Regions from separate parts of the Homo sapiens genome. Here region 1 is linked to region 2. The links come from fine-mapping of genetic effects on gene expression. A gene starts in region 2. The other region holds a variant in brackets. All regions are shown on one strand. Distances are from middle to middle.

Region 1 (2,907 bases), 130 kb before region 2:
AAAAGAAGTATCAAAAGATGAAGAGATAAGAACTAACATTTGTGGAATGTATGCTTTGTGCATTGTATGGGCTGCTTCGCATATATTTTCTCATTTAATTTTCCCAACAAGGCACAAATATCATTAGCTGCACTTTAGATGTGGAAGGGAGAGAAAGTGCCTTCTCTGAACGTATGAGTTGTTTCTCTTATGGAAAAAGATTGAGGGATAGACCCCCAGGATCCTAAACACATGACTCCTACCCTCCTTATAGCTACCCCCAAAAAGTTCTCCAAGGTTATAAAATGCCCCAGGATGATGACAACAATAACAGTAACAACAACATAACAGTAAATATTTAGTGAGCGCTGAACATGTACCATTCATTATACCATGCCTATAAACACAATGATAACCCCCATTTCACAGAAAAAAAAAACTGGAGATTTATAGGGGTTATGAAATTTTCCCAAATTGAAGCCCATAGAATGACAGAGTTGAAACTGCAACCTACGTAATTTGACTTTAGAACCCAAAAGTGTGACCACCAGATTAATTAGGGTTGGATCCCATGTGACAGAAAAACCTAACAGTGACTTAAATAAGACAGAAGTTTCTTTCTTTCTGAATTAAAATAATGCTAGAAGCTGATGATCTAGGGCTATTTGGCAGTTTCTCAATCCTCTGGATCCAGCTTATCACTCTGTCTAATGTATGTACCTCATCCTCCTGTTCTAAGATGGATGCTAGAGTACCAGCCATCACAACTGCATTAGCAAGATAGAGAAAAAGACAAGTGATCAAACATTACCTGTCTTCTAAGGAGGTTCCCTAAAAACCACCAGTGCTAGGCAAAGAAAAACTTTATTCTAGCTGGGCCTTTGTCCCCACACTCTTATCTCGGTGAGCTGGGCTCGACCAAGTATGAACCCAGGACAGACAGGCCTCAGGCCTAGATTAGGACAAAACAGGCCAATGATCTCACTGTCCCCTTTCCACGAGACCTATATCTTGCCACAGATGCAACAAGGGAAAATAAACAAGTTTCTAGAAGGGATGGGAAACAGAGAGGAAATGGACCTAACTCAGGGGCCCAGCAAACATCTCCTCCCTCTCCCACAGTGTTTTTTGTTTTTGTCTTTTTTTAACAGATGAAGTCTCACTGGGTTGCCCAGGCTGGCCTCGAACTCTTGGGCCCAAGGAATTCTCCCACCTCAGCTTCCTGA[G/A]TAGCTGGGACTACAGGCTTGTGCCACCATGCCCAGCTACCCCCAAGTGTTAAATATGTCTTTTACTAAAGGTGGGAAGACTTTGGGATTTGAACCACGGTTGACTGACCCCAAATCCGATGTTCTTTCCAGTATACCACATCATCTTTTTTTTTTTTTAATCAACATTATCCTCCAGTAGTTATTCAAATAAATACAGGGGCCCATGAGGTCAAGTGGCACAGATGTTTCCAGAGCTAGGGAACTGCTCCCAGGGCCCCTGCCACCCAAGCCAAGAGCCACTCTGCATGGCAATGAGAGCTCATGTCCTGAGTCACTCAGTGATGGAGGGAAGCCTGTAGGACTTGATAGACAAGGATCACTTCACGATGAGTCACATTTGATCCTCACTTGGGCCATGAGAAGAGGGGGACTGCTGAAGTGGGTTTTCTAATTCACTGATGTCTGCATTTTCCTATTAACTATATCCTGTGACAGCACAACAGCCCACAAAATGATGGCAACTTCTTTTTACTCTATAAGGGGCTTGCTTCCTCCTGCCCCAAGATCTTTTCCTGCCAGAGACAGTGAAGCAGGTTGTTTGGACCTCATCACTTGACCTCACGGACATTTGTCCCAGAAAGACATTCGAGCTCACACCTAGTAAAGATGCCCTTCAGGTTTCGTCTTTCCTTCTGTCATTCTACATCATAGCCCCCTACAAAATGTCCTATGGCCAATACGATAATTGGTATGAAAGTCAATTCTTTTTTTTTTTCTGTAATAAAACGTAACTGCTCAATGAATCTTCTCTTCCTATAACATTTACACAAAGCTGAGTTGATTCAGGTAGAAATAATTCCAATAAAATGAAAATGGGAAAAAAAAAAGAAATGTTCTAATGGTATCATTAGAACAACATTAGAAGAAGTAAAAAGCACACTGGTCCCTTTAGAGGAGGCAAAACTTATCCTAGCACTTACCTCTAAAGGAAGTTTCTCACATGGAAGTTCCATGTTCACCTCTAGTGCTTTCGAGTCACCAGCTTCTTTGTGAATGTGATAAAATCTGTTAACCCATTCCCCAGAAAAAAGCACACACAACAATCCAACTACATTTTTCAATTTCTAGAAATTCACAGGCTCCAGAAACCCATCCATAAATCCCAAGTTAAGAATCCCAATCTAGATTACGTGTATGAGAGGTACACTTGCCTCAAACCGTTTCCAGGTGAGAAGGAGGCAGAGAAGGGACTAAGGACTGATGGGGAACAACGTTGGCAGGAATTCCTGAGAAGTGTCTGTGTTGAAATGGGAGCCATCATATGCCTTTAAGCCTTGCCAAACATTCACAATTAGAAATGTATAAACTCTTTCAATGTTTAGTTCTCTCCCTCCTCTGCTTTTTAAATTAAAGACCTATTTTAATATAGCGAACTAATACCAAGGGCTGGTGACAAAGGGAACTTTACCTTGACGCCGATTATTCTTACAGGCTTAGAGTTGGGGTATGAACCACCAAGAAAGCGAGCCTAGAAGTACTGGGCTGCAGGCAAGATGACAAAGACTGAGAATCAAAGCACTCTAATCCTCTGAGTTCATGAACCCCTGGTACGAGGAATGAGAAGGTGCTTGGCTATCAGACAGACATGCATGTGGATATCACTTACTGCCTCCATGATTTCAGCAAGTCATTCCATCTAAGTCATGTGCTCAGTGTCTGG
Region 2 (2,907 bases):
TTTCAGAGTGGCGGGGAAGAGGAGAGCTGCGAGGGGGAGGGGCAGCGGCTTATCTCTCCCAGGAGGGGGGAGCTCACTCCAAACAGCTAGTGCACTGGCGTGTGAAAGCCCCTCAATTAGCACTAATGATGCAATCAGGGAGGGAGGAGGAGGGACCGAAGTTCTGGTGGCGTCAGCACCAACTTACACACAAGGTACACATTCCCTTCATCGGACACAATGGCCCCTTCAGACACGCCGAGGCACACACTCCACAGACAGCCGTCCGTGGGCACAAACGCACTCTTTGCCCAAGCTACTAGCATGCACATGGTTTCTTATACGCGGCTGACCCCGTCAGACCCCAGGCATCTTGAGGGGTAGGGAGCGACCCCCAGCTGCATTTGGGGCTTTAGAGGCAAGGAAAATCAGAAACACTTTGGTAAAAGGAGTTGAACAGGGCATCCTCGGCGAGCTCACGAGCATTCCTCTATGCCTAGAGCTCCTGTCCCACGCGCGCTCGCAGGTGCTGGCCCGGCTGTGCCCGCTTCCCCCTCACCATCGCCCCAATCCGGAATCCGGGGCTGAGCGAGGAGCCGCCACCCCCGGCCCCACCCGCGAGAGACGGGGTCCACGCGCCTTCCCTGCGCCCAAACCGCCCCGAGGCCCCCAGTCCCAGGAGGGAGCGCTGAGATCACTCGGATCTCCGCACCCCGGACTTAGCTGCTCGTCCCCTCCGGAGCCCGCTACCCGCCGGCCTCGCCCCTTTATCTTTCCCCCACTCCGCCCGGCCGGCTCCGTTATCCACCTCCCAATCCCGTTATCCGGCCGCCCCGGCCCCGTTATCCGCCCTCGCGTTGGGCGCGGAGCCCCCGCGCGCCTCCTGGCCGCCGCCGCCCCCTCCCCCGCTCCCAGACGGAGCTCGGGGGACCGCGGGCTGGGCGGGACCGCGGGCTGGGCAGGACCGGAGCCGCCTCCGCGCCGCTTCCCAGGCCCGGACGGCCGCGGGAGGAGGTCCCGCTGTCAGTCAGCGGGGAAGGCCGGGCCGGGCGGCCGGAGGGGGCGGCGCCGAGGACGGGCTCGGGCCGGGAGCTGGGAGGTGGAGGCGGAGGGGCGGGGGAGGGGGCGGGGGAGGGGGCGGGGGCGGGGGCGGGGGGCGGCTCTGGGCCTTATAAGCGGCGGGGGCAGGGCGGCAGGGAGGCAAGTGTCAGGCCGATGTGTCGCCCGCGAGGGGCCGGGGTCGGGGCCGCCGGGGCCATGCGCGCGGGCTGGGCAGGGGGCCGGCGGGGCGCAGAGCGGAGCCGCCTCGGAGCCTGAGCCGCCCGGGGCCGGGGCCGGGGAGCCGCGCGGGGCCGGCCGGCCGGGGGGAGGGGAGCGATGCGGCGCCGGCGGGCGGCAGTGGCCGCGGGTTTCTGCGCCTCCTTCCTGCTGGGCTCCGTCCTCAACGTGCTCTTCGCTCCGGGCTCGGAGCCTCCGAGGCCAGGCCAGTCCCCTGAGCCTTCGCCGGCCCCGGGTCCGGGCCGTCGCGGGGGCCGCGGGGAGCTGGCCCGGCAGATCCGGGCGCGCTACGAGGAGGTGCAGCGCTATTCCCGCGGGGGCCCCGGGCCCGGGGCGGGCCGGCCGGAGCGGCGGCGCCTGATGGACCTGGCTCCGGGCGGGCCCGGCCTGCCGCGCCCCCGGCCCCCTTGGGCCCGGCCCCTGTCCGACGGCGCCCCAGGCTGGCCCCCGGCTCCCGGCCCAGGCTCCCCCGGCCCGGGCCCGCGCCTGGGCTGCGCCGCGCTTCGCAACGTGTCCGGCGCGCAGTACATGGGCTCAGGCTACACCAAGGCCGTGTACCGGGTCCGCCTGCCCGGCGGTGCCGCGGTGGCGCTCAAGGCGGTGGACTTTAGCGGCCACGATCTGGGCAGCTGCGTGCGCGAGTTCGGGGTACGGAGGGGCTGCTATCGGCTGGCGGCCCACAAGCTGCTTAAGGAGATGGTGCTGCTGGAGCGGCTGCGGCACCCCAACGTGCTGCAGGTACGAGGGTGGGGACGCGGGGGTAACGGTGTTGGCTGGGAGTGCCCAAGACCTTGTCAACCTGGCTGGAAGAGAACCCCTTGATCTGGAGTGCCAGTGACTGCACCCAGGCTAAGCTAGACGCAGAAACCGGACCATGGCCCTTCCCACTGCACCACCCTGCTTCTCACTCCTGGGTGGGCGTCCCTTTACCGGAGAACTCCTGGGTTTCTCGGCTTCCACACATCTCTTAAAGACAGGCCAGGACAGAGGCTCCCAAAACTCAGGGGGTGGGGCAGTCCATTAGGATTTAGGACTCTACTCCGGGCTGGAGTTAGGAGGTTGAACACCAGGGATATTACCCCAAGCCAAAATGACCCTAAGCCAAGACACTTGAGTCAGAATTCCAACTGTGTGATAAAGTCCCCCTTCTTGATGGAACTTCTCCCAACTTCCAGTGATTTGTCTGGTTTTGAAAATGAGACGGGACAGCAGTGGGGCTGGGAAGAGCTGGAAAGAGACCATGTGTCAGGCTTGATTCCTATAGAGTCTCCCCACCCACCCACCTCCAGCGCCACCCAGAAGACACTGGAAGGGGGCTGGGGAGCAGGCTAGAAAAAGGGAACACAGTCCTTCCCAGAAGTGAACTAAGGGTTCCCCAGGCCTTAAAGTGGGTCCTTGAGCCCCTGGAGAAGCCTGAAGGTCTCAGCTCAGTGGACAGACTGGCGGCCTGAGGATCTAAATGTCACACTGTCTGAGTGTATATAGATAGCCAAGAGGCTGGAAGGTTGAGAAGGCCAAATGCTCAGGTTCCTACTCAACGGGACTCTGCCTCGCCTGTTCACTGGAGACACAGGCGAGAGCTGAAACCCCCACCTTGTCCCCTCCAAGCTAGACTTTGAGTGGGCCTCTCACAGTCCCAGCACCGCCCTA

Direction of the effects. Alleles are on the strand shown, and positions count from the first base shown. SD is a standard deviation of normalised expression in the study named.
For the expression in left ventricle of the gene that starts at base 1,178 in region 2, allele G in region 1 goes with a lower level than allele A (moderate effect, 0.49 SD a copy in GTEx).

Evidence for each region. PIP is the estimated chance that this variant, and not a neighbour inherited with it, causes the effect. A credible set is the group of variants that fine-mapping cannot tell apart.
Region 1: its variant is the best candidate, but not a certain one, in a credible set for the expression of PKDCC in left ventricle (GTEx, PIP 0.62).

The regions. Positions count from the first base shown.
Region 1 is chr2:41,919,494-41,922,400 of GRCh38, forward strand. No RefSeq gene overlaps it. Among named protein-coding and RNA genes, the nearest start is that of LINC01914, 13 kb to the right of the region's middle. The variant G/A (reference allele first, on the strand shown) is at 1,206.
Region 2 is chr2:42,046,844-42,049,750 of GRCh38, forward strand. It overlaps PKDCC (protein kinase domain containing, cytoplasmic), which reads left to right and starts at 1,178. Exons shown (of 7, transcript NM_138370.3): 1 at 1,178-1,995. The coding sequence starts at 1,357. RefSeq lists enhancers at 1-58, 59-563, 187-306, 1,807-2,066, 2,780-2,907 and silencers at 477-766, 877-1,126, 1,277-1,456, 1,467-1,566, 1,697-1,766.